Linked DNA regions of Homo sapiens. The protein of the gene in region 3 purifies or fractionates together with the protein of the main gene of each other region. This does not show direct contact. Each region holds a gene or a part of one and is shown on either strand. Other genes may lie near its edges.

Evidence for each region. The genes of interacting proteins can lie anywhere in the genome.
Region 1: the proteins of ZNF311 (region 3) and NKTR purify together in Homo sapiens (affinity purification with mass spectrometry; 2 studies listed by BioGRID and IntAct, with this or other methods). This does not show direct contact.
Region 2: the proteins of ZNF311 (region 3) and GPALPP1 purify together in Homo sapiens (affinity purification with mass spectrometry; 2 studies listed by BioGRID and IntAct, with this or other methods). This does not show direct contact.

The regions. Positions count from the first base shown.
Region 1 is NC_000003.12:42,630,790-42,639,072, reverse strand, and holds part of NKTR (NK-tumor recognition protein), read right to left. Parts: intron 7,903-8,283; coding exon 7,757-7,902; intron 6,473-7,756; coding exon 6,250-6,472; intron 5,513-6,249; coding exon of another isoform or gene 5,494-5,512; coding exon 5,338-5,493; exon of another isoform or gene 5,337-5,337; intron 4,461-5,336; coding exon 4,373-4,460; intron 3,853-4,372; coding exon 3,707-3,852; intron 2,206-3,706; coding exon 1-2,205. UniProt on the Homo sapiens protein: PPIase that catalyzes the cis-trans isomerization of proline imidic peptide bonds in oligopeptides and may therefore assist protein folding. Component of a putative tumor-recognition complex involved in the function of NK cells.
Region 2 is NC_000013.11:44,998,642-45,006,924, forward strand, and holds part of GPALPP1 (GPALPP motifs-containing protein 1), read left to right. Parts: intron 1-3,508; exon of another isoform or gene 3,509-3,806; intron 3,807-5,663; coding exon 5,664-5,796; intron 5,797-7,560; coding exon 7,561-7,662; intron 7,663-8,283.
Region 3 is NC_000006.12:29,001,731-29,009,897, forward strand, and holds the start of ZNF311 (zinc finger protein 311), read right to left. Parts: upstream 3,586-8,167; 5' UTR 3,278-3,585; exon of another isoform or gene 2,810-3,277; intron 2,705-2,809; exon of another isoform or gene 2,485-2,704; 5' UTR 2,225-2,484; coding exon 2,216-2,224; coding exon of another isoform or gene 2,141-2,215; exon of another isoform or gene 2,131-2,140; intron 1,865-2,130; coding exon 1,783-1,864; intron 1-1,782. UniProt on the Homo sapiens protein: May be involved in transcriptional regulation.

The DNA.
Region 1 (8,283 bases), on a different chromosome or scaffold from region 3:
AGCACATCTTCCACTCCATTGGGAACACTTTCTTCAACGTGCTGAATGTTTTGTAAACAGGCCACATTTTCCTCAGTATTTAAAGCTGTGGGAGAAATACTGAGTTTACTATCATCTTTAGTAAACTGATCAAGATCTGATGAAACAGTCACTGTATCATGTTTACCTGAAAGGTCCTCTTCACTGGATTTCTCAGTTTTTAGAATATTATCTTTTATGGTTTCATTGTTTTCAGAAACTTTTTTCTCTTTTGATTCCTGAGTAACTTGCTTGTCATCAATCTCCTCCTCCTCCTCTTCACCAAATTCTAGTGGAGGCTGCCAGTGAAATGCTTGCTTTCGTTTTGGAGCCTTATGCTTTTTGTCTTTTTTCCCTTTCAATTTCTCTTTCACTTTTTTGGTGTGTTCTCTTTTAAGATTTTCCTTTGACCCATGTTTGTGCTTTTGTGGCTTTCCCCTATTGTTTTCCGAATTGGAACAGGACCCCTCAGAGTCAGAAGTTGATGTGCGCTGTTTGCTTGATTTCCAAGCACCATTATCATCAGGCAGTGAAGTATTTGTGGACGACTTGGTTGTGGGTTTGACTTTGATGTGAATTTCACTAACCTCTGATTCAGAATCGGATGTGGCCTCACCTTCTTCCTTGTCAGAGGATGGATGGGAGTCATTTTTACTGTTTTTAGTGACATCTCGTTCTGAATTTGACTCAGAGTCCCATTTACTACCAGCATAATTCTTCCTTTTGGGCTTACTGCCATTTCTAAGGTGATCAGAAAGATTCTCTTTCAAAGTTCTTTTTTTTGAATGAGGGCATTCCCGTTCAGACTTGGATTTTTCTTCACCTCTGTTTTTTTCTTGTTTATTATGTGTTCTTTCCATTTGGCCCTGCTTCTCTTTTTCCTGGGCTGACTGTGTGGCCTGAACACTTGACTGCTCACTGTCTGAAGAATAATCTAAAGATGATCTGCTCTCGCTATACTTTCTCACACATGAAGACCTGTCTCTACCTTTGACATATTTACTGTGAAGTGTCTTTTCAGAGCTGCTGCTATGCTTTTTATGTGAAACGCTATTTTTTTTCCCACTGGATCTAAGTCTCCTCTTAGCTCGCCTTCCATCATCACTGCTAATAGAAGTATATGAAGATGATCTACTACACTGTGAATGATCACTGTATTTATTTCGTGAATGAGATCTAGATGATGGAGACCTAGACCTTGAATGTGAACTAGCTAGACTACGTGATCTTGTATATGATCTGGAATAAGATCTACTCCTAGAAGATCTGCTCCTTGACCTTGGTGAGCTTTCTGAACTTCTATCACTGTATTTTGAATAAGTGCTCTGATCACTTTCCGAATTTTTTTCTCTTTTATGGTAGGATGATGAGCTACCAGTCTCTTTAATATTTGCTAAACTGTAAGTGCTTTGGATGGGTAGCAAATGGGTTGTTTTAGCTTTCATTTCCTGAATTCGCTCATAAGAGGGCTTCCAAGGTTTCTGTCCAGGCTTCCATCTTGAAGGGGGGGGACTGTCACTCAGTGGTATTACAGGAATATTTTCTGCTACAACTGGTTGTACTACTACATTTTCATTTTGTGCCATGGTTGCTCTTAAAGGTTCTGTTTTAACTGGTTTATTTTCACTTAACTGAGAAGCTGTTTTTCTTGGTGATTTTGATGCTCTCTTTCGGTGCCCAGACTTGGAACTAGATCTGGACTTTGATCTACTTCGAGAATGTGATGAGGACTTTGACGCAGTCCTTGATCTTGAGCTTCCTCTAGAATAAGACTGTGAGTGAGATTTTGATCTGTATGAGTCTCTGCTGGAATGGGTTAAAGAGCTCTGGACATCCTTATCAGATTTAGACCAGTCTCTCTTTGATGAGTGATGAGATGACAATGAGGAAGAACGAGAACTCCTTTCTCTATCACAAGAGGATTTCATTCTTCGAGTGGAAGATTTTGAGGATTCTATGTCAGACGGTATAAGAATCCTTCTCTTCTTTGTTTGTTTGTGTCTTCTGCAGTGTTTCTGCTTTTTCCCTTTCTTTTTATGCTTAACCTTTTTTTCTTTTCTGCGTTTTTTATGGTGGCCAGAGTGTCTTGCTGTACTAAGGTCTGAATAATATCCATTATAGGACCATGATCTGGATCTCTGAGACAAGCTTCTTTCATCCCATCGGCTTGAACAGGGGTCACTTAACCTATAGAAAGGACATAATATTCATGCGGTGATTTATAAGCATGTTTTCTACACCTTAAGACACAGCTTTGTTAACAACAAAGTTCTTGACCCCATTAACACTTTAAGCACACGCAGGAAGCGTGAATCAGAGTTATAGGCCTGGTCTTGTTATACTTTCAGAGACACACACTAAGAACTACTAACAAATTCACTTACAAAAGGATTTTTTTTTTAAGCTAAGCAAAGAACCTTACATTTGTTAGGAAAATGTTTTTGAAAAGCAAACCAACTAATCACAAGAACACTGCTGAACTCAAATCACAAGAGTTCCTGGCTGTTATCTGCTCACAACCCTCTGCCTCTAGGACAGTTTTTGAGGGTGAGTCAAACCAAGGTCTCAAACAATTTGTTGATTTTCTGAAGATGCAGGATAGCTGCTTGAAACTAGCATGAAGCTTGTTTTTTCTCCACCTCAGACAGGTAATCCAGATTTCCCCTAAGACTGTAAACTACTTAAAACAGAAATTGAGGAAAAAGTACACAAAAACAGATACAGGTTACAATCTGAGTGTTAATGTCAAGGCTCAGAACTGAAAGTCCTCAGCACCACTGTGTCTGAGCCGCTTCTACACAGCAGATGCATTCCTTTTCCTCCTTTTCACAATTCCAAACCACTCTGCAGGATGTCCCCAGAGAAAAAGAGAATACTACCATGGAAGATTACACAGGGTCCCATTAGTATATTTTTCACTAGCTATTCTGGGGCCTATCCCCTTCCTAAAATAAATATTCAACTGTGGGACATCACTGAAGGTAAGAGATGTGTACACTTCTAAAAAAGCAAGTCTCTGCGATCAACAGTCAACATGAACACCGAGTGCAGGTTTTCCTATTTACCAATGAACTCATCAGTGACCTGGCTGGCTAGGAAAGAATCTGCTATATAATTTCTAAGTCCTAATTATTTTTTTTTTTTTTTGAGACGGAGTCTCGCTCTGTCACCCAGGCTGGAGTGCAGTGGCACGATCTCAGCTCACTGCAAGCTCCACCTCCCGGGTTCACACCATTCTCCTGCCTCAGCCTCTCTAAGTAGCTGGGACTACAGGCACCCGCCACCACGCCCGGCTAATTTTTTGTATTTTTAGTAGAGATGGGGTTTCACTGTGGTCCCAATCTCCTGACCTCGTGATCCGCCTGCCTCGGCCTCCCAAAGTGCTGGGATGACAAGCGTGAGCCACCACGCCCGGCCTCTAAGTCCTAATTATTTCTAAAATTGACTAAGAGGTCATTAAAAGACACAGGCTTATAGTTTTTGTTAAGGAAAACAGGATTTTGATTTAAAAGCCCAACTAGTTAACAGTACTACTTTCATCAAGTAGTCCCAAATGTATTTCCTTTGGTCACAGTCTGACTGTGAATCTTTCACTGAATCTTTAATGAAAAGTCCAGAATTGTATCCAATCCCTTTAACATTTAAAATATAACAGACACAGGATTGTGCTTATACTCAAAGTTCTTACTTATCTCCTTTACTCCATTTTTCTCCACTAGGTGGTCTATATGCTCTTAATCTCTGCATTTCCTCTTTCCAGTGAGGAGGAGTTTCACTGCTGTCATCATCATCTGACTCAGAACAGGATCTTGATCTTGGAGGTGTGTGATAGCGCTTTAAAAACAAAAACAATAGTATTTTAAAAAATGCCTCTCCACGACAGTCTGCTATGTGACAGAGTTAAGTAAAAGACCCAATCTCAGATCATCCCATCAAAGGTAATGATTGAAGTTACCAAAAGGATGGTCTAAAGTTCTTTTTTTTTTTTTTTTTTTTTAGTTTTTAACTTTTATTTTAGGTTCAGGTGAAGTTATTTCAAACAAGGCATTAAAAGAGATGGGCAAGGCTGAGATTCACCTGTAATCCACATAAAATTTTCCTTTTTAAAGTCTTAATGATTTCTCAGCATACTCACTGATGGTTTCACATGTTCCTCCTTTCATACTCAATTAAACCCATTCAAACACAGCAGTATACTTTGATCTAACAGCAATACCTTCCCATAACCATGGAAAATACAATTAGTTCCTTGAACAGATTTTGTATTATATCTAAAATTAACGCTAGGACTTTGAAAATAGGTAAAAATTTTTTATTAGATACATAATATCAAAAAAAGTCTTATCACACATACAATTGTGCCCCTTCCTTTAATCTTCCGTCCAGACTTTGATACAGATGGTTTCTGATCACTTACAATGGGTGCAACATCAGGAATCTTCCTAGGAAAAGAAGATTGTGATGAAAATTAAAAATAAGCAAAGAAGCTAGAATTTTTAATAATGAAAACACATTATGTTAAGCTATTAATTCAAAGATACATGCCATTTTGCAATAGCTTTTTAAAACAAGACAATATCAGGCTTTAAAAAATATTTAATGAACTAAATGATAACTTTATGCAGAGAGCTAATTATAAATAAGGACTCTTATACTTTTCAGCTTTCAAAATAACTCTTCATAGGGAACTTATCAATGACACCAGCCATTATGATATTTCTGTTCATGAAACATTTTCTTTCAATAATTCTAAACTTGAGTCTAACACACAAAATACATTAAATACTATTTTCTCAGACCAAATCTAAAGCGACACATTCACTTTTCCAATGCAGGAAGTAATTGTTGAACAAGTTAACAAAAGTAACTTATTTATGATACTAAATTGTATCTCCAATCATCATGCAATTAATTATGCACTATTCAAATTGGAACCCATGCTTCATCACTCAAATGGATCCAAAGAATTCAACTAACTCTCTATTCTGATAACTAAAACCTCACCCCTCTAATAAAAGGCAAAGGCAAGAAGATCAGGAATAAAATCTTTCCAGATCCCCAATAAGGGCTTCCCTGACCAACTTGCCCAACCTCCTCTCCCTGCTAGAATGTGAATTCTGAAAGGTAGGGTACATATCACTCAATAATCTGGTATCCCCCATATTTCCTACGTATCATTCATTAATCTAATACTCCCATACTATCTTTCAATGTGCTTCAAACATGGATCATGTTCCATACATGAGTGTGGAATGCAATGAGCTGACGGAACAGTGTTATCGGAGAAATAAAAATAAATAGTTTAGTCATCCTACTTACGGTTCAGGTTCTGCAGTAACAACAGGCATATCTCTTCTCAGTAAAAATCGGTTCTCAGGCACTGGAGGAATCTCTTCTGGGCGGACCACAGGTTTTTCCCTTTTAGCACTGGAATCAACTGACCTTTTTTCATTGGTATCACTCCTCTCAGAGTGACTTAGAACAAACCAAGTCACTGATTAAAATGTATAATGTTTGCATTTCATAATAAAAGCACATAAAATTAGTTACTAAAACAACAGCATAATTAACGATAGCTTACAAGTCTCACTCAAAAGAGTTATATGATTTTCACAAAGAGAACAATATCAACCCAGTGAAAAACCCAAAGACTAGAATTTTGATAGGAAAATTGTTAAATGATCCTAACTTTTTTATTTTAAGAGTTCCAGGAGGCCAGGCATTGTGGCTCACACCTGTAATCCCAGTACTTTAGGGGTCTTAGGTGGGAGGATTGCTTGAGGACAGGAGTCAGAGACCAGCCTGGTCAACATAGCGGAAGACCCTGTCTCTACAAAAAATTTAAAAATTAGCCAAGCATAGTGGTATACGCCCGTAGTCCTAGCTACTCAGGAGGCTGATGCAGAAAGATCTCTTGAGCCCAGGAGGTGGAGGATGCAGTGAGCTATAATTGTGCCACTGTATTCCAGCCTGGATAACAGAGCAAGACCCTATCTCTTAAAAAAAGAGTTCTTAGGACTATTTTCACCCGAAAACTGAAAACACACAAATCTTTGAAATGAAATGCCTATGCTACCTACTCCTAGATTTGCCAGATTTCAATTTAAAGTTTAAAAAGTGCTATCCTTTTTCAATAACAGGTAATAAAATTGAGTTTATAGAATTATACATACTTTTCCCATTCCAGAGTGTTTGTTTTTAGGTAAGAGTACATTGGTGTTTTACACGTACCCTTTTGGGTTCATTGCATGTTTATTCCTTGGCTCTTCTGAACTGCTTGCTTCCTTTCGCCTCTTTTTAGAACGTTTAACTTTTGGCCTCCTCTTATGTTTCCTCCTTCTGCTTCTCTCATGTTCAAGTTCACTTTCTGAAGATGATTCTGAAGAAGAGGAGGAATTGGAAGAGGAATCCGAGCCTTCTGAATGAGTTGGTTTCTTCCTTTTTTTCTCAAAAACTTTTAAGAAACATTAATAAAAACATTAGTACTAAATTCAGTGCCTACCTTTCAGAGTAAAAAATGTGATTACTGAATATCATAAAATATGCTTTACATACAGCAAACAAAAAATGAAATGTAGACAGTTTTTTTCAAGTTTATAATAAAATTACTGGCAAGATTGTAAGGTAGTAAGTCCCTTGTCTTTATGAAGCCTATATTCTTGTTGGGTCAAGTAACAAGAAATAGGCCCGGTGCAGTGACTCATATCTGTAATCCTAACACTGTGGGAGGCCAAGGTGAGCAAATCACTTGAGGTCAGGAGTACAAGACCAGCCTGGCCAACATGGTGAAACCATGTCTCTACTAAAAATAACAAAAATTAGCCAGGCATGGTGGTGCATCCCTATAATCCCAGCTACTCCAGAGGCTGAGGCAGGAGAATCACCTGAACCCAGGAGGCAGAGGTTGCAGTGAGCCGAGATAGTGCCACTGCACTCCAGCCTGGGTGACAGAGCAAGACTCTTGTCTCAAAAAAAAAAAAAAAAAAAAAAAAAGAATTGCATAATATGACAAATGATTAAGTGCTAAGACAGAAAAACAAAGCAGTGTAAAGGGAATAGGAAGACTAGGGGTAGTTTAACATAACATTTGAACAGAGACTTAAGAGCAAGGGACAGTGTCATGCAGATATCTTAACAAAGGGTGTTCCAGACAAAGAGAATAGGCAGCACAAAATCCCTGAGTGGTTGGCATGTCTGAAAAAAGGTCAATGTGCCTGGAAGGCAATGAATAAGGGAAAAGAGTTTAGAGAGACAGCAGAGAGCCAGACCAGCCAGGGCCTTAGAGACCACCATAAAGACTTCTGCTTTGGATGATTGAAGATGGGAGTCCTTGGAGGGTTCTGTGCAGGCGTGACATGAATGCAAACTATGGTTCAAAGGGATCACTCTGGTTGCTGTTAAGGACAGACCACAGCGGGCCTAGGATATAAGCAATGAGACCAGTTAGGAGGCTATTGCTGCTGACAAAAGATTATAGAACGGAGGCAAGGTAAACAGTTACGACGCTACGGCAATAATCCAGACACAAAATACTGGTGGTGTGGATAAGGCTGGTGGCAAGGAAATAAGAAAAAGTAAGATCTGACAAGATATGCTAAAAGATTAAACATGTAGGGTATGATTCAGGGGCACCAAGGGCTATTGCTATACCACTAGTTCCACTAATCAAATCTAGTTACAGTCTTCAGCAATGCTTTACCTGCATCTTAGCTTCATCTACTGTCAAAAAAGTTCTTACCATCTTTTATTGATTTTGTGGCAAGTACTCCACAGTCAATAACTCGCACATCTGCATATGGTCTGCTTGCAGCATCGGTCTTCAGATTTTCAATTTGTTCGATTACTTCAAAACCAGAAATAACCAGTCCAAAGACTACATGCACCCTGTCATAATACAAATTCAAGAAACAACTGGTTTGATAATTAAGCTATAAACAGTAATCAAGACAATTAACTGTAATCAATGACATGTCCACAGACCTGAAAATAAAACCAAACTGTTTGTTGTATGAAGCAACTAGAATGGAATGAGAACTTGAAATCTGCTTCATAAAAGGAAACGATTATGCAAACTGGGCCTCAGTTTTCTGCCTTTAAAACAATGGTTCTTAACCATTTTAGGGTAAAGAGTCTGGTAACATTCAGATTTCGCTTGGTACTTGGGAACCTTCCTTACAGGGACACATGATATTGTACTGCTTACTATCCGACCCATTTTGGAAAACTGAAGAGAAAAATAAAAAATAAAAAGAATTATATTGCTGA
Region 2 (8,283 bases), on a different chromosome or scaffold from region 3:
CTAACTCAGGTCCCACCCCTACATCACTGCTTCTAGGAAACATTCTTTGATGTTAACTACCTACTGCCTGTAAAAGATGGGTTGGGTGCCCCTTCTTTATATTTGCATGATTTAACCATGTCATGGGGTCAGCAAACTTTTCTTGTAAAGGACCAGATAGTAAATACAGTTGACCCTGTAGATCTGCAGGTTCTGAGTCTTCAGGTTCAACCAACTCTAGATTGAAAGTACAATATTCAAGGGAAGTGGAACCAAGGCCATAGCCACAGATTTTGGTAGCTGCAAACAGGGGAGTTGGTCCTGGAACCAATCTCCCGAGAATACCGAGGGACAACTGTACTTTTGACTGTAGGTCAGTAGGCAAAATCAAGATTATTGTAAAAGTATGTGTACAACAAGAAGGAAGCAAACTTCACAAAATTTTATTGTTGCAATCTAAAACATAATACCATATAATTTTTTTGTAATACAGGTCTACTAATGAGAAGAACAGAATTGGTTTTGGGGGAGTAACATTTCATTTCATCGGAGTTCAAGTTAGCATTCCTAGTCATCAGAATCAGTTGTGGATGTTCATCTGTTAATGCTGATCTGTAATGAGATTTTTATGTATTATACTGAGTTCATTTTTTTATATGCATATCACAATTCTGTGTGATATGAAAGGGAAATAAGTGAAATATAAGGAACGCGTAACTCCTGTTCTCATGGAATTTATAATCTATTTGGAAAATTATCATTGCAATAGGAGAGCCTCCTTAATGACGACAAGCATCACTGCTTTAGGAGAGATATGGAATAGTTCATTACATGTTCCCAAAATAATTTTTTGAGATTATTCATAGTTCAGAAGGATATCTATAAAAAAGTGAAGCCAGACATGTCCTTACTTTTATTAGGGGGTCTGTATTGTGGCGTATACTGACTGACACTTTTAATATTCTTCTCTTTTTTCTTGAGACAGAGTCTCACTCTGTCACCAGACTGGAGTGCAGTGGCGTGATCTTGGCTCACAGCAACCTCCGCCTCCCGGGTTCAAGTGATTCTCCTGCCTCAGCCTCCTGAGTAGCTGGGACTACAAGCATGTGCCACCACGCCCAGCTAATTTTGGTATTTTTAGTAGAGATGGGGTTTCACCATGTTGGCCAGGATGGTCTTGATCTCTTGACCTCATGATCCGCCTGCCTTGTCCTCCCAAAGTTCTGGGATTACAAGCATGAGCCACTGCGCCTGGCCCCTTTTTTCTTTTTTATATCGCCATCTCAGTATTCTATCATTTCATGATGAAATAGTTGTTTATTTTGAACAACTCAAATAGAAATTAATGGTACTATGTGCTGAATGTTACTTTTTTATACTATTTTTCCGTGATTATTTTTAAAAGGCCAGGTTTTCTTAGATGAGTTTTATCTTCATCTGCTTATTATCTTTTTAAAAAATGTATATCTCGTTTGTTTCTTTAAAAATCCATGGCAATTTTTTAGTTGTAATAGCACCAGGTGTGGTGGCTCATGCCTGTAATCCCAGTGCTTTGGGAGGCCAAGGCAGGAAGATCACTTGAGGCCAAGCGTTCAAGACCAAGCTGGACAACATAGTGAGACCCTGGTCTCAAAAAAATAAATAAAATAAAATTTAAAAATTATCTGTGCATGGTGGCAAACACCTGTAGTCCTAGCCATGCAGGAGGCCGAGATGGGAGGATCGCTTGAGGCCAGGAGTTCAAGGTTACAGTGAGCCATGATCACTGCTTTCTAACCCAGGCAACAGAGCAAGACTAAATAAATAAATGAGTGAATGAATACATAAATAAAAGGTATGTGTGTACGTTATAATACCAAGAACAGCACATATTTAGACCATATTACACATCTAATTGCTTAAAATATATAAAAGAATAATAAAATTTTTTCTTGATACAAACCTATCCAAAATTGGCCAATAGTATACAATTGATAAATTACATGGATAGCAGTCACATATAAGAAGAGAAAGAAGCAGAAGAGGAAAAAACATATCTTCCCTCTTTAATGTACTTAGAATCAAGAAGATGAAAAGAGCCAATCACTCCTGTGGGGTCACACATGAGGTTAGAGGTCACATATAGTCTCTAAATTATAAATAAATTGGGGAACACTTACATACTAAGACATTAAGTCTTCTTTAGTAAACCCTAAACAGCAGTTGGAGATAGGAATCCCATCCATGATGCTTGATGTTTTCCTTTTTGCTGTAACGCAGCATGCCTTAGAGTTATTCTTTTCTAAGGCATGTTATTACCTGTTCTATAGTAATGCACCAAGAGAGATAGGAAAAATTTTTTTGAAATAGGCCAATGATTCCAAAACTAGCCTTAGTTTCTCCCCTGAGCTTTACACTGTAATAATGTTTGGCTATGTCCCCACCCAAATCTCATCTTGAATTATAGTTTCCATAATCCCTACATGTTGTGGGAGGGACCTGGTGGGAGGTAACTGAATCATGGTGGTGGTTACCCTCATGCTGTTCTCGTGATAGTGAGTTCTCATGAGATCTGATAGTTTTATAAGGGGCTTCTCCCCCTTTCTCTCTGCACTTCTCCTTCCTCCTGCCATGTGAAGAAGGATGTGTTTGCTTCCCCTTCCACCATAATTGTACGTTTCCTGAGGCCTCCACAACCATGCTGAACTGTGGCTCAATTAAACCTCTTTCCTTTATAAATTACTCAGTCTCAGGTATTTCTTCATAGCAGCATGAGAACGGACTTACACACCCTATACACCCTAGTATGCCCAAGTACCACTGATAGCACCACCTAAATTTTTAAGGCTGTATGAAACTTAAAATGTGAAAAACAAACTCTCAACTCTCCCCTCCCAGCCTATTTTCTTCCCAGCCTTCTCCATATTAGAGAATACCATTGCCCTTCACCTGCCTAGCTAGTCAGGCACAAAACCTAAGACCTATCCTTGGTTCCTTTTTTTTTTCTTCTCACCTCTAACATCCAAACCATTAGCAGTCCTCTTTGCCCTTACATCAGAGTATGTTGCAAATCAAACCTTTTTTTTTTCTTTCTTTTTTTTAGATGGAGTCTTGCTCTGTCGCACAGGCTGGAGTGCAATGGCGTGATCTTGGCTCACTGCAACCTCCACTGCCAGAATTCAAGCAATTCACCTGCCTCAGCCTCCTGAGTAGCTGGGATTACAGACGCACACCACCATGCCCAGCTAATTTTGTATTTTTAGTAGAGACAGGGTTTCACCATGTTGCCCAGGCTGGTCCCGAACTCCTGACCTCGGGTGATCCGCCCACCTCGGCCTCCCAAAGTGCTGGGATTACAGGCGTGAGCCACCACACCTGGCCCACACCATTTTTTATCAGCTTTCTAATGCATATCCCCTGTTGCTGATCTCTCTTGTCTATTGTCCACAAGCTGACAGTTTTTTGTTTGTTTGTTTGGTAATTCATATCATGTCTGTCCTGACCCACAACCTCCCAATGACTGCCTGTTGTAATTAAAATCCAAACTCCTGCTGGATGTGGTGGTGCATGCCTGTAGTCCCAGGTACTCAGGAAGCTGAGGCAAGAGGATCGCTTGAGTCCAGGAGTTCTGGGCTGTAGTGCGCTATGCATTCTGGTATCCACACTAAGTTCAACATCAGTATGGTGACCTCCGGGAGTGAAGGACCACCAGATTGCCCTAAGGAGGGGTGAACCAGCCCAGGTCGGAAACAAAGCATGTGAAAACTCTGGTGCTGATCAGCAGTGGGATCGCACCTGTGAAAAGCCACTGCACTTCAACCTGGACAACACAGTGAGATCTCGCCTCTTAGGGAAAGGGAACAGAAAAGGGAAAGGGAAAGAGAAGTCCAAACTCCTTATTGTAGCCTGTACTAGCATTTATTGAGCACTTGCTATATGCCAAAGACTTTGTTAGGTGTTTTGCATATATTAACTGATATAATCTTCACAACAGTCCTGTGAGGTTGAAACTATTATTAACCTCATTTTACAAAGCAAGAGTGTAATAGGAAGGTTAAGTAACTTATCCAAATCACACAGCTAGTAAGTGGCCAACCTGGAATTCAAAGCACAGAGTCTGCCTCCAAAGCAAGAGTCTGGCCCCTTTATACCATCCAACTTGATGTCGTCATTTTGCTTTTCTTTAGCCACACTGGCCTTTTTATTCCTCAAGCACATCAGGCTTGCTCCCTGCATAGGAGTTGTGCACTGGCTGTTCCTCTGTCATCTCATCATTTAAGTCTCCATTCAAATGTCTTTTTCTCAGAGAGATTTTTGCCTTACCACTGTCTTTAAAATTACCCTCCCACATATACAGTGTCACCTTTTTCCTATTTTCATAGTAGCATTTACACTATCTGAATTGATCTTAATTCTTTTAATGTTTGTTTCTCTAGAAGTATTTACTTAATAACTGTTGTTGGATGGATGGTTGCTGACTATTGAGTATTGGCTAGTATAGTGGTTAAGGATATAGGCTTTGAAATCAGACTCCTGGGTTCATGTCACAGCCCCACTACTTAGTTGTATGAAGTTAGGCAAGTCACTTAACAATTCTTGGCCTCAGTTTCTCCATATGTAAAATAGAAATAATATCTCCCTTATAGGATTGTTATCAGAATTAAATAGAATAATGTGTATGTCTCTTAAAACAATTCATAACACCTAAGAACTCAAACCATGTTATTTGTTATTTATTTATTACACTTAAGTTTTTGTAGTAACAAATATTACTATTACTATAATATTGAATGAATGGCATACCCAGAATACTCTTTGGAAAATCATGTTTCCAGGCCCTCCTCCAGGCCAACTGGGTTAGAATATCTGAGAAAAGGGCCCATGAATCTTTTAAAAATACATAGATTTTAGGGAGTCTGATAAATATCCAACCTTGGGAACTATGATAGTAGGCTTTTAGCATCACTATTTAGGATCAACCTGGACAGTTGTGTCTGTGTGACATCATCAGTGACATCATGACACTGCAGTGACACCATATAGTAATTTGTAATTTTGCTGAGATGTAAAGTGAGAGCAAGTCATTCTGATAAGTGGACCTAGAAGACCCTTACCACTCTCCCTAACATCCCCATTACAGTGCAGCCTCATTCTCTTCCCTGTATCTCTGTTGGCAAGCAGTAAAACTTAGAGTGACTCTAATTTTATTTCTGCTTGGAAAATCATCTCAAAAAGAAAACTAACCAAGAAATATGGGGATGCCAGGAAAGATTTTTTTTTTTTAAGTAGTGGTTCTACCGTAAACTGTAAGAAAAAAAAAAATCATGAAGCCATTGGGGTTTTTTTTTGTTTGTTTGTTTGTTTTTTTGTTTTTTTTGGCAGGTGCACCAACCAATGCAAAAACTGCACATTATCAAGGAAATTACATGCTATTGCTATATCTATAAGTTCGGGTTTATAAGTTCAGATATTAACAAAGCTTTTGTGAATCTCATGAAAGAGATTGTGTAAGACATGATTTCTGCCTTCCTAGAGCTGGAAAGACAAAACCACTGTACACAAACAACAGCAATTGAGATTAAAGTGAATAATAAATGATAGACAGCCAGTGCTGTTTATTTCAGAAAAGAAAGTGAAAAATATCAGCTAGAAGGGTTCATTGAAACAGTAGTGGCTAGTGATGACAAACAACAAGTGTTCTTTAGTTGCAGGACCAGCTCTGCCCCCTAATTATAAAAGCAGTAGTTCAGATTCATCAGACAGCGATGAAGACAGTAGTTCTTTGTACGAAGAAGGAAATCAAGAATCTGAAGAAGATGACAGTGGTCCAACTGCAAGGTCAGTCATTTAATTAAATTAAATGATAGACCAAACTTCAGAGCTAGTATAAGTTGGCTGGAACAGATAGCTAGTAAGGGGATATCATATTTCCATTTATACAGCACAGGGAGAAATCATTTTGTGTGGCATTTCATCCTGAATTATACCTTTTACAAAGAAATTTATTCTAGTAGTTTGCAGCTATAGAGATATCTAGAATTTCAATATATATGTATATTTTTTCCTGAGACAGGGGCTCACTCTGGCGCACATGCTGGAGTGATGTGGCACGATCTTGGCTCACTGCAGCCTCTGCCTCCCAAGCTCAAGCGATCCTCCCACCTCAGTCTTCTGAGAAGCTGGAACCACAGGTGCCCGCAAATTTTTGTATTTTTTGTAGATTTTTTGGTATTTTTTGTAGAGATGGGGTTTCATCATGTTGCCCAGGCTGGTCTCAAACTCCTGGACTCAAGTGATCTGCCCGCCTCAGCCTCAGAAAGTGCTGGGATTACAAGCATGAGCCACCACACCAGCCAATAAAATTCTTACATAAATGATTTTTCTTAAGATGTCATTGAAGTGCCAAAATAGGCTACATAAACCATAGAATTTCTTATTAAAATTATATATGCAGTGTATGTTTTCTTTAAATAAACTAATGGTTTTCTTTTTTTTTTTTTTTTTTTTTTTTTTTTTTGAGATGAAGTCTCACTCTGTAGCCCAGACTGGAATCCGGTGGCACGATCTCAGCTCACTGTAGCCTCTGCCTCCTAAGTTCAAGTGGTTCTCCTGTCTCAGTCTCCCAAGTAGCTGGAACTACAGGTGTGTGCCACCATACCTGGCTAATTTTTGGATTTTTTAGTAGAGACAGGGTTTCACCATGTTGGCCAGGCTGGTCTTGAACTCCTGACCCCAAGTGATCTGCCCGCCTCGGCCTTTTAAGGTGCTGGGATTACAGGCATGAGCCACTGTGCCCAGCTGAATGATTTTCCTCTAATCTGGCCTTACCCACTATGAGTCTATGTAAATGAGAAGTCAAATCTTTGTTTATTATTGAGTAACAAGCTTTTTTGATTCATTTTAAATATTATCAGGTGGAAATAGCAACTTAAAACCCTTCCTTAGATGAGAATAAAAGTCACAGTCATAAACTTTTTACTGAGAAACATCTGACCAATAGACTTTGAAACTGCATTGAGGGGAATCTTTAATACCACAGAAAATATAGAATAGTGATATATTACTGCTGTAAAGAAATAACCAATCTGTATTTTAGGCCAAAAATAAATTCCAGGAAAAGACTAGTTACGAACTATTGTCGTAGGCCAGGTGCAGTGGCTCACGCCTGTAATCCCAGCACTTTGGAAGGCCAAGGTGGGGAGATCACTTGAGGTCAGGAGTTCGAGACCAGCCTGGCCAACATGGTGAAACCCCGTCTCTACTAAAAAATACAAAAATTAGCTGGGCGTGGTGGCGCTTCCCTGTAATCCCAGCTACTTGGGAGGCTGAGGCAGGAGAATTGCTTGAACCTAGGAGTGGGAGGTTCCAGTGAGCCAACATCACGCCACTGCACTCCAGCCTGGGCAACAAGGCAAGACTTCCTCTCAAAAAATAAAAAAAAAAAAAGAACTATCGTAGTATCCAGTTTTTATTTGGCAGGATTAATTTATTGTTGCAGTGTTTATACAACTAGATTTAATGCTTTTTTAAAAAAAATTAAAATGTGCTTTTGTGAAAAAAATTTTGACATATATGCATAAAGTTATACTACTATGTTTTCAGAAAACAGAGGAAAAATCAGGATGATGACGATGATGATGATGATGGGTTTTTTGGACCAGCCCTTCCTCCTGGATTTAAAAAGCAGGATGATTCTCCTCCAAGGTGATAATGTGTAATATTTTAGGCCAGTCTTTCTTTAAATATTTTAACTAATGAATCTTTAATGAATTAAAGAATTGTCTGAAATTATGTTTTAACTGAAATATTTATATAACATTTTGAAATGGGTCATTCACCAGGAAAAGAAGTTGTTTCCTACAATAAAAATAATTATTTACATGTTTATGACACTTTCATAGTTTACAAAAAACTTCCACATCTGTTATTTGATATTCACAAAAGTGTTTTGTGGTAAACGAGGTGGATCACCCCTCTCCCCACTTTATAAACAGATAAGGTCACACACATAGTAGCAGACCTGGAGCTAGAATCTTGATGTTGTGACTTTTAATTCAGTTGTTTTCTTAATTATTTATCAATAGAAGAAACACATCCCCATGTGCCATGTTAGACAATTGGACTAACTTCTCTGAATCTTAAATTTGTTATCTGTAAGCTAGGATAACAGCATGTACTTTACAGAATTGTGATGATTGAGGTTTCATAGTTACATACCTTGACTTTGTGTGTGGGTGTTTAATTTATATGGAGCCTGGCACAGAGTAAGTATATAGTAAATATTTATTCCTGTCTTCTTCCCAGAATTGTAAAATTTTTAAATGC
Region 3 (8,167 bases):
GTTCTGCAATATTTGCTTTATCACATACTTATCCATTTATCTATTCCTCTCTCTGTTCATTAATGTATTTTATTTTTTGAATCATTTCAAAGTAAGTTGAAAGCATCAGTACACCTCACCCCTAAACAGTTTAACATGTATATCATTAACTGGAAGTTCAACATTTGTTTACCTTCTTTTTCGAGGTAAAATTTACATATAATGAAATGCACATGTCTTAAATGTACCCTTAGAGAAACTTTGACAAAAGCATACCCCTATGTAACTCATTCCCTACTGGTTTTTACCATATCTTCTTCACAACTGGGAAAGTCTGTCACTCATAGTGATTCATAAGCTTTATTTTTTAGCTTTAGCTTTAGAAATTGAAAGGTTATTCCTCTTAAGTTAAAAATGAATTTAGGAAACAGGCTACATGAAAAAACAACATAAAACTTTTTGTTAAAGCAGTATACAGATATCTTGTGGGATAAGATTAATACATTTGTATTGTATTATATGATAGGTGGCTACAGAATTTCTGACCCTGAAAATCCACCACAGCAGATTTCACGACCATTTGAGAAAAAGAAGACTGGGAGACTCGTGCATCCGAGTTTAGCAATAGCTATTATTTTTTATTTCTAAATCTATAAAAAATTTATGTTCTATATTATTAATTCTCATTTGTGATCCCTTGTACAGCAGATATCTCAGGATTCCTCCTCTAGATGTTTCAACACTATATCTAGAAACACATTTTATTTTTATTTTTTGCAGGTAGCATATACTAAAAAGCTTACTTTTGAATGTGCCTACTCCTCTGTCCAAAAGTCTATGCCTTTCTGGGTTTGATTTTATGACTCCTGAATTGCTATATACTATCTCCTAGGTTGCACCTCCAACAGCAATTTTTTTTTTTTTTTTTTTAGACAGAGTCTCACTCTGTTGCCCAGGCTGGAGTGCAGTGGCATGATCTCAGCTCACTGCAACCTCCACCTCCTGGGTTCAAGCAATTCTTCTGCCTCAGCCTCCTGAGTAACTGGGGTTACAGGTGCATTACACCACACCTGGCTAATTTTTGTATTTTTAGTAGAGATGGGGTTTCACCATATTGGCCAGGCTGGTCATGAACTCCTGACCTCTAGTGATCCACCCACTTAGGCCTCCCAAAGTGCTAGGATTACAGGCATAAGTCACCGCACCCGGCCTACCATCAGCTTTTATACAAATCTTAACCACTTTTCCTCCTCACATACGCCACCAAAGAGCACAAGGCTTCAATGGGAAAACTTTTGCTTCTTCTTTTGTCACTGCTTTATTTTATATTTTGGAGATATCTATACATCATTTAAAAGTATCAGGGCTCCAGAAAGGTCTGCAGAAGTAAAATTGTATATATTCAAATTTTACATGTTGGCAAAATTATGTTTGGGTAGGAATTACTGAATTATACCACAAGTTTTATAAGTGTAAAATATGTGCAAATATGTACGCTATTTACCATATATCTCAGGTTATACAAACAGTAAATGCCTGACTGCATTGATTCTTTCTGATAAATTGCTTTGTAGAATCTTTTACACACTGATTTTTTTCAAAATTTAAGATACTGACAGAAACTGAATATTTAGTTCCTCTAGATATTGATCCAAGCCTCGTATAGAAACAAAATAAGACTTTCTATAAATGCTCATTAATGAACAGATTTTTGGGCCCCAGTGTGGCATTTTCCACCCACTCTGTGTCCTTACTACATTCTCAGCTGCCGTGACTCCTGCCACAATCTCCTGTGTATCTCACCGCTTTCCTGAGGGAGCTGGGTATCCTGGCGGGTCCAAAGCAGCTGGCTTGGTGGTCCTGAACTCTCATCCAACAGCACAACCTATTGCAAGACACAGAATGAATTCAGGAAAGTTATGAAGGTGAGAAAAATACATAGGAAGATGCAAGCAACCATACAGGTCTATCCACAGAAACTGTCTCCCAGAAATACCAAAAGAAGGGAGAAAATAATGGACTCAGTTCCTAATACCTTATGAAAACTAGAAATGGCATCTACAACTACAAAGCTTTAATGATCACCAGGTCAAGCAGCAAAAACAGTATCTAGGAGGAGACACCTCCAACAGTATCTAGAGTCAGACACACCTCCACTCACACTGCTTTCCTTCTTTCTTGGACTCACTTCTCCTTCTTCCTCCTTGTGATGTATCACAGACCCTCCTCTTCTTACCTCCTGCATCTTTTTACTCAGGTTTCTTTAACAGTCTTCCACTGCTGTCCTGGTTTCTTCCTACTGGTCAGATCCAGTTCTCAAACAAGCTGTGAAGTGGCTCCAGTTGATGCCAGCCTCCTTTGGAGAACACATGTTTTGGTGGTGCCAGCCAAAGGGCCCTTCTTGACCCACAGTGCCGCTACTGTTTGGCTTAATGTGTCAAACACTGCCCTGGATTTGGGGTTCATTAGCAACACTAAACCGCTGTGATCTCACATCTTGTTTCCCTGCATATTTGGTGAAGGGAAAAGAGGAATGTGACCACAGGAAAAAATAGGGAGTCACTGAGAACCTGAGGCACGAAGTCAAACTGAAAATGTGAACATATCCAGAATACAATCTCAACGGCTACCACCCTTGTCTGAGCCACCATCACCTGCTATCTCCCCTCCTTTCCATTACTGCGGTAGTCTTCTAACTGGTCTCCTTTCTTCAATCCTTGCCTTCCTCCTTTCTTTTTTTTTTTTTTTTTTTTTTTTTTTGAGACGGAGTCTCGCTCTGTGGCCCAGGCGGGAGTGCAGTGGCGCAATCTCGGCTCACTGCAAGCTCCACCTCCTTTCTTAATAGGGCAGTCTGAGTAGTCCGTTTACAACTTGAGTTGGATCATTTCATCGCTCTGCTGAAAACTCTCCAGTGGTTCATACTTAAAATAAAACCTGAAGTCCTTACCGAGGTATACAAGGCCCTACTGAATGTGCCCGTGACTTCTAACTTCCTCTCCTGCTCACCCAAAATAAGAGCTGAAGTCTTAAGAGTGGCATACAAGTCTACAGGATGTGTCATTCTCAACACCTTCTACTCTTCTCCCACTCCCTCAATCTTCAGCCATACCGACCTTCCTTCTCTTTCATCTTAGGGCCTTTCCATTGGCTGCTCCCTTCACCTTAAGCGATCTCCATGGCTAATAATCTTGCCTCCTTCAAGTGTTTTCTTATAGGTCATCTTCCCAAGGAGGTCTACTCTGAGTGCCTTATTTAAAATTGCAGCCTATCCCCTCCTTCCAATCCTGATGGGCCTTACCTTGCTTTACATGAATTCTTCTTTTCCTCTATAGCACTTTATAATTTTCCAGTATGGTGCATAAGTTACTTATTAATATATACATTGTTTACGGTGGTTCTACCTTCGCTAAAATCTAGGCTCTTAGGCTCCATGAGGGCAGGAATTTTTGTCGTCTTGTTCACAGTTGTATTCTCAACGCCTAAAACAGCGCTTGCAATAGTATGTGCTGGATTAAAAATTAGCTGACTGAATGAATATATGAATGGATGCTGTAGAGAAGAATAAAAAGAATGGGTCAGGAGGCGACAAGAGCAAGACTCCGGTCTCAAAAAAAAAAAAAAAAAATGGGTCACGAGCCCCTGGGAGGAGGTAGGGCAAATGGGCGGGAAATGCTCATTTTGGGGAATGGCTTCGAGGGAGGAAACCGCAGCCGACTCCCTCCTCAAATCTGGCCCCAAAGACCCGCCCCTGCCTGCAACCCCAGGGGCCCGGGTATTTAGGTGAGGGGGGCGACGGCGGCACCGGACTCCTCTCCTCTCAGCTGCAAATTCCGACCCACGACGGCCCAAGGCACAGACCTTCCCGCCGGTACTCTCCCCAAGAAATGAGAAACAGAAATATACAGAAGCTCCACTTCCTAGTCCGCCAATTATCATTTCCGGTGATTTTCTAGGAAAGGCGTCAACTCTCTGGTCTAGGCGTTCCCTTAAACTCTCCGCCCTCCTCCTCGCGGCTCAGCCTTCTAGGAGTTTGCGTGCGTTTATGGCCTGTGCAAAGGGGTTGCAGAAATATTACCCTTTTGCTCCTTTTTTCCCATGTAGAGGAACCTCTAGATAGGAATGGACAGAAGTTTTGTGACAAATATATGAAAAAGTTACTTTTAAATATTAACTAAGAACACAAATAATTGAATGTCTTTTTCAAAAGTAAAGACTATTTTAAGCCTATGCAGAAGTCGAAAGAAGAGTATAATTAACCCATATATACCCATCATTTACATTTAAAAATACATAAAATTCTGCCACACTTGTTTCATCCATCTCCATTTTTTCTTGCTGAAACGTTTTAAAGCAAACCCCAAATATCTTACTTTCAACTTCATTATGCATTTATTTTAAAAAGGATATTTTCCTACAGAATCACAATACCATTATCCCATTTAACAAAATAATTCCTGGTTATCATCTAATACCAAGTCCATATTATATTTCCCTAAATATATACATATGCTTCTTACATTTGTTTTCTATTTCATTCAAGATCTAAAGTTCCAGTATTTAATTTGGGCATGTGTCTTAATTCTTTTAAAATTCACATCTGAACTAGTTCCTCCTTCCATCCTCCTCTTCGTCTTCCCCTCATATAGTCAACTAATTGAACAAATTGGGACATTTGTCCTGAATGTTCTACATGCTGGCTTTGTCTATTTGTGTCCCCATTTTATTAGTTTCTCTAGCCTCATATTTCCTGTAAAACTTGATGTTACCTCTAAAGGTTTGATTAGAGTTAGGTTTAACTTTGTTAGTAAGAATCCTTAGGTGGTGCTATGTACTTTTTGCCACACATCAGGAAGCATATAATGTTTTTGATGCTAAGATTGACCAGTGGGTTTAATACTTGATAGCTGAATCCTTCCATGTAAACTTTCCCACTGGCTTTTAATCTGATAGATTCAGCCACCCCATTTCATTAGAGTTTGTAAAATTGTAATTTTTCTAATTCAATAATTTTTTCACATTTATTAGTTAGAACTCCTCTATAAAGAAAAACTTTCCTTCATCAATTTAGCAATTTAGGGCTATTTGGTTATCCTGAAATGTAGTTTGTACAGGAAAGAAAGACTGTTTAATTTTCAACATAATTGCCAATTTTCAGAAAAAGCAGTTGTGCCTTAGGTGCCATCAATGGTAACCACCTTACAAAATGTGATAGCCATCCTATAAAATGGCTAGCTGGGCCCTACTGTCCAGCATTCACATCCTTGTGTAGCCCCCTTCCACATTGTACCAGGGTTGGTTTGTGTGACTGAATGATCTGGTAAAAGTGATGCTATGTTTTGTTTGTTTGTTTGTTTGTTTGTTTTGTTTTTTGAGACAGAGTCTTGCTCTGTTGCCCAGGCTGGAGTGCAGTGGCGCGATCTTGGCTCACTGAAATCGCCACCTCCCGGGTTCAAGTGAGTCTCCTGCCTCGGTTTCCCAAGTAGCTGGGACTATAGGCATGCATCAGCATGCCCAGCTAATTTTTATATTTTAGTAGAGATAGAGTTTCGCCATGTTGGCTGACTGGTCTTAAACTCCTGGCCTCAAGTGATCTGCCCACCTTGGCCTCCCAAAGTGCTGGGATTACAGCCATGAGCCACCGCACCTGGCCGATGCTACATTATCTCTAATATTAGGTTATAAAATAATCTACGGCTTCTGTTTTGGTCTGTTTTTCTTTCGTAGATCACACACCCTTGGGAAAGCCAAATGCCATGTTGTAAGGAGAGGCCCAGGTGGTGAGGAACTGAAGCCTCCTGCCAGCAGACACATGAGTGAGTTTGGAAGTGGATCTTTCTACCTTAGTCAAGCTTTCAGATGACTGCAGCCCTGGTTGATGTCTTGGGTGCAACCTTATGACATACGCAGGACCACCAGCCAAGCTGCTCCCAGATTTCTGGTCTTCAGAAGCTGGGGAATGGCTTTGAGGGAGGAAACTGCAACAGATGTTTGGTTCTAAGTTTTATAACTAATGCAAAATTTTGTTTTCTCTTTTTGTGCATCTAATGTGCACTAATGTAAAATCTTTTTGTGCAACTAATGCAAAATTTTGTTTTCTCTTTTTGTGCACAACATCAAGTGTTCTGCATCAGTTGATAACTAATGCAAAATTTTGTTTTCTCTTTTTGCATATCAATATGAACACATGGATTTAAAAAAATACATTCAATGAGTCTCAATCAATTGCAGTAGTTATTCTTTTTAATGTTCAAATTATTTCATCTTTGGTCAGTGGGAGTCCCTTTATTTTATCTCCTGTGTCCTTTTCATCCAACTCTAAGCGTCTTTGCTTTTTTCCTTTATGGCAAGATAAATGTTTCAGACACATGTCATACATTTCCTGCCTCAGACCTGGAATCAGCCATTTTTCCAAGGTGTTCTGGTGCTTTCAGTGGGGGCAAGGATTGCATACCTTTGTGAATAGTCATGGTTAGCTGTTTTAAAAATGTATCAAAATGAAATAAAATTTGCTTAATTATGAGATTAAATCCTGGCTACCCCACTCACAATGTGTGTGTATCATACCTTAGACCCACCCTAGTTTGTCTATCTGCAAAATGGGTCCAGTGTAAATACCTAAATTTCAGAGCCGTTATAAGGATAAATTAGTTAATACGTGGAAATCACTTAACACATTGCCTGGCATCAAATTTCATGATGAGAATAACTGCAAACCTGGAAGATACTATAATGGTAATGAGGTATACTTTCTTCATTTTATACTTGAGAAAATTGAGGCCCAAGAGATTAAAAACTTGTTTGTACAAAAGAGGATAAAATTAGAAGAGAATCTAATGATTTCAGACTCTTGGATCTCATACCTAGACTACTTTGGATATAAATGCAGCCTTTCCAGCCCAGTCGGGTCTTCTATTTATTCAAAGACAAAGGAGGTAAGAAAATACTTGGCACAGTAGCAATAAAGTGGTATTATGGGAAGTGCAGAAACTTTATATTGAGAAGATCTTGTTCCTGATTCTGCAACTTGTTAGCTATGATACTGTGAGCAAGTTACTTAATTTCTCTGTGTCTTAATTGCTGCATCTGTAAAATAGTGAAAACAAATCCCTTATGCACAAATTCATTGTGAGAGGGTTAATATACATATATTGTATATGAAAATGCCTGGCCATATTGCTTGCTGAATAAAAATCATTATACAAAAATAATTTCTTCAATCCCCCAATTTTATAAAATTTTATTCTCATCTAATGGAAATTGGCATTTTAAGTAGAATGATCCCTAAGGATACTAAGTCTATAATTTTGTAAAGGACTTTAGTGAATACTGTGCAAAGGCACTGTGCAAGGAGCTACAGGAGAGATGCTATGCGTGGTCATCTACCTTCCAGGCTGACTGGGTACAGTCTTTCTTCCCAATATTAATCTACTTAATAGTAATAATGTCCAGTTCACATATTTTTGTGCAATACATTCATGAAAGACTGCTATACCCTTTGCTGTTATAAAGATACTTCCACAGTAGACTGTTAGCATATACTTTAATAATCTAGTTGGATTAAGAGACATTTATTTACATTATTTCCTCTAGGCTAACCACAATCGCTCATAAAACATCTCCTAAAATAATTAATACTGGAATTTTACCAGGGATCCATGTCAAATTTTTCACCCTGTTAATTCCACAGTTCACCTTCTTACTTTTTGAAAATTTGGATATTTGTCAGACTTGGGCATTTGTTGCACTACTCAAAAATGGGCTTCAGGGGTCCTGTGGCCAATCCTCCTGAACTTTAGTATGCTTTAAGCTGGGCATGAAAACTTGTAGTTACTGTTTAACTACCTTCCTTATGTAAATGTTTGTCCTATCATTCTCAACTTGAAGGTCACGACACTTGATGGAGATATGAAAGCCTGATAATGTTAAGTAATTTTATGGCCCTTCTGCCATCTGTCAAAATTACAAAATTCATTTCCTGGGGCTTTTGAAAAAAATAGCAAATATTTCAGGCATACTAAAGAGTAATATAAAGAACACTCAACATCTAGCTTAAGACATAAAAGATTATATACACAATTAAATCACCATGTCTACTCCTCACCAATTCCTTCCCCCTTCCTTCCCAGGTTAACTACTATCTTGATTTTGATGTTATTATTCCCATGCATGTTCACATATTTTTAGTACA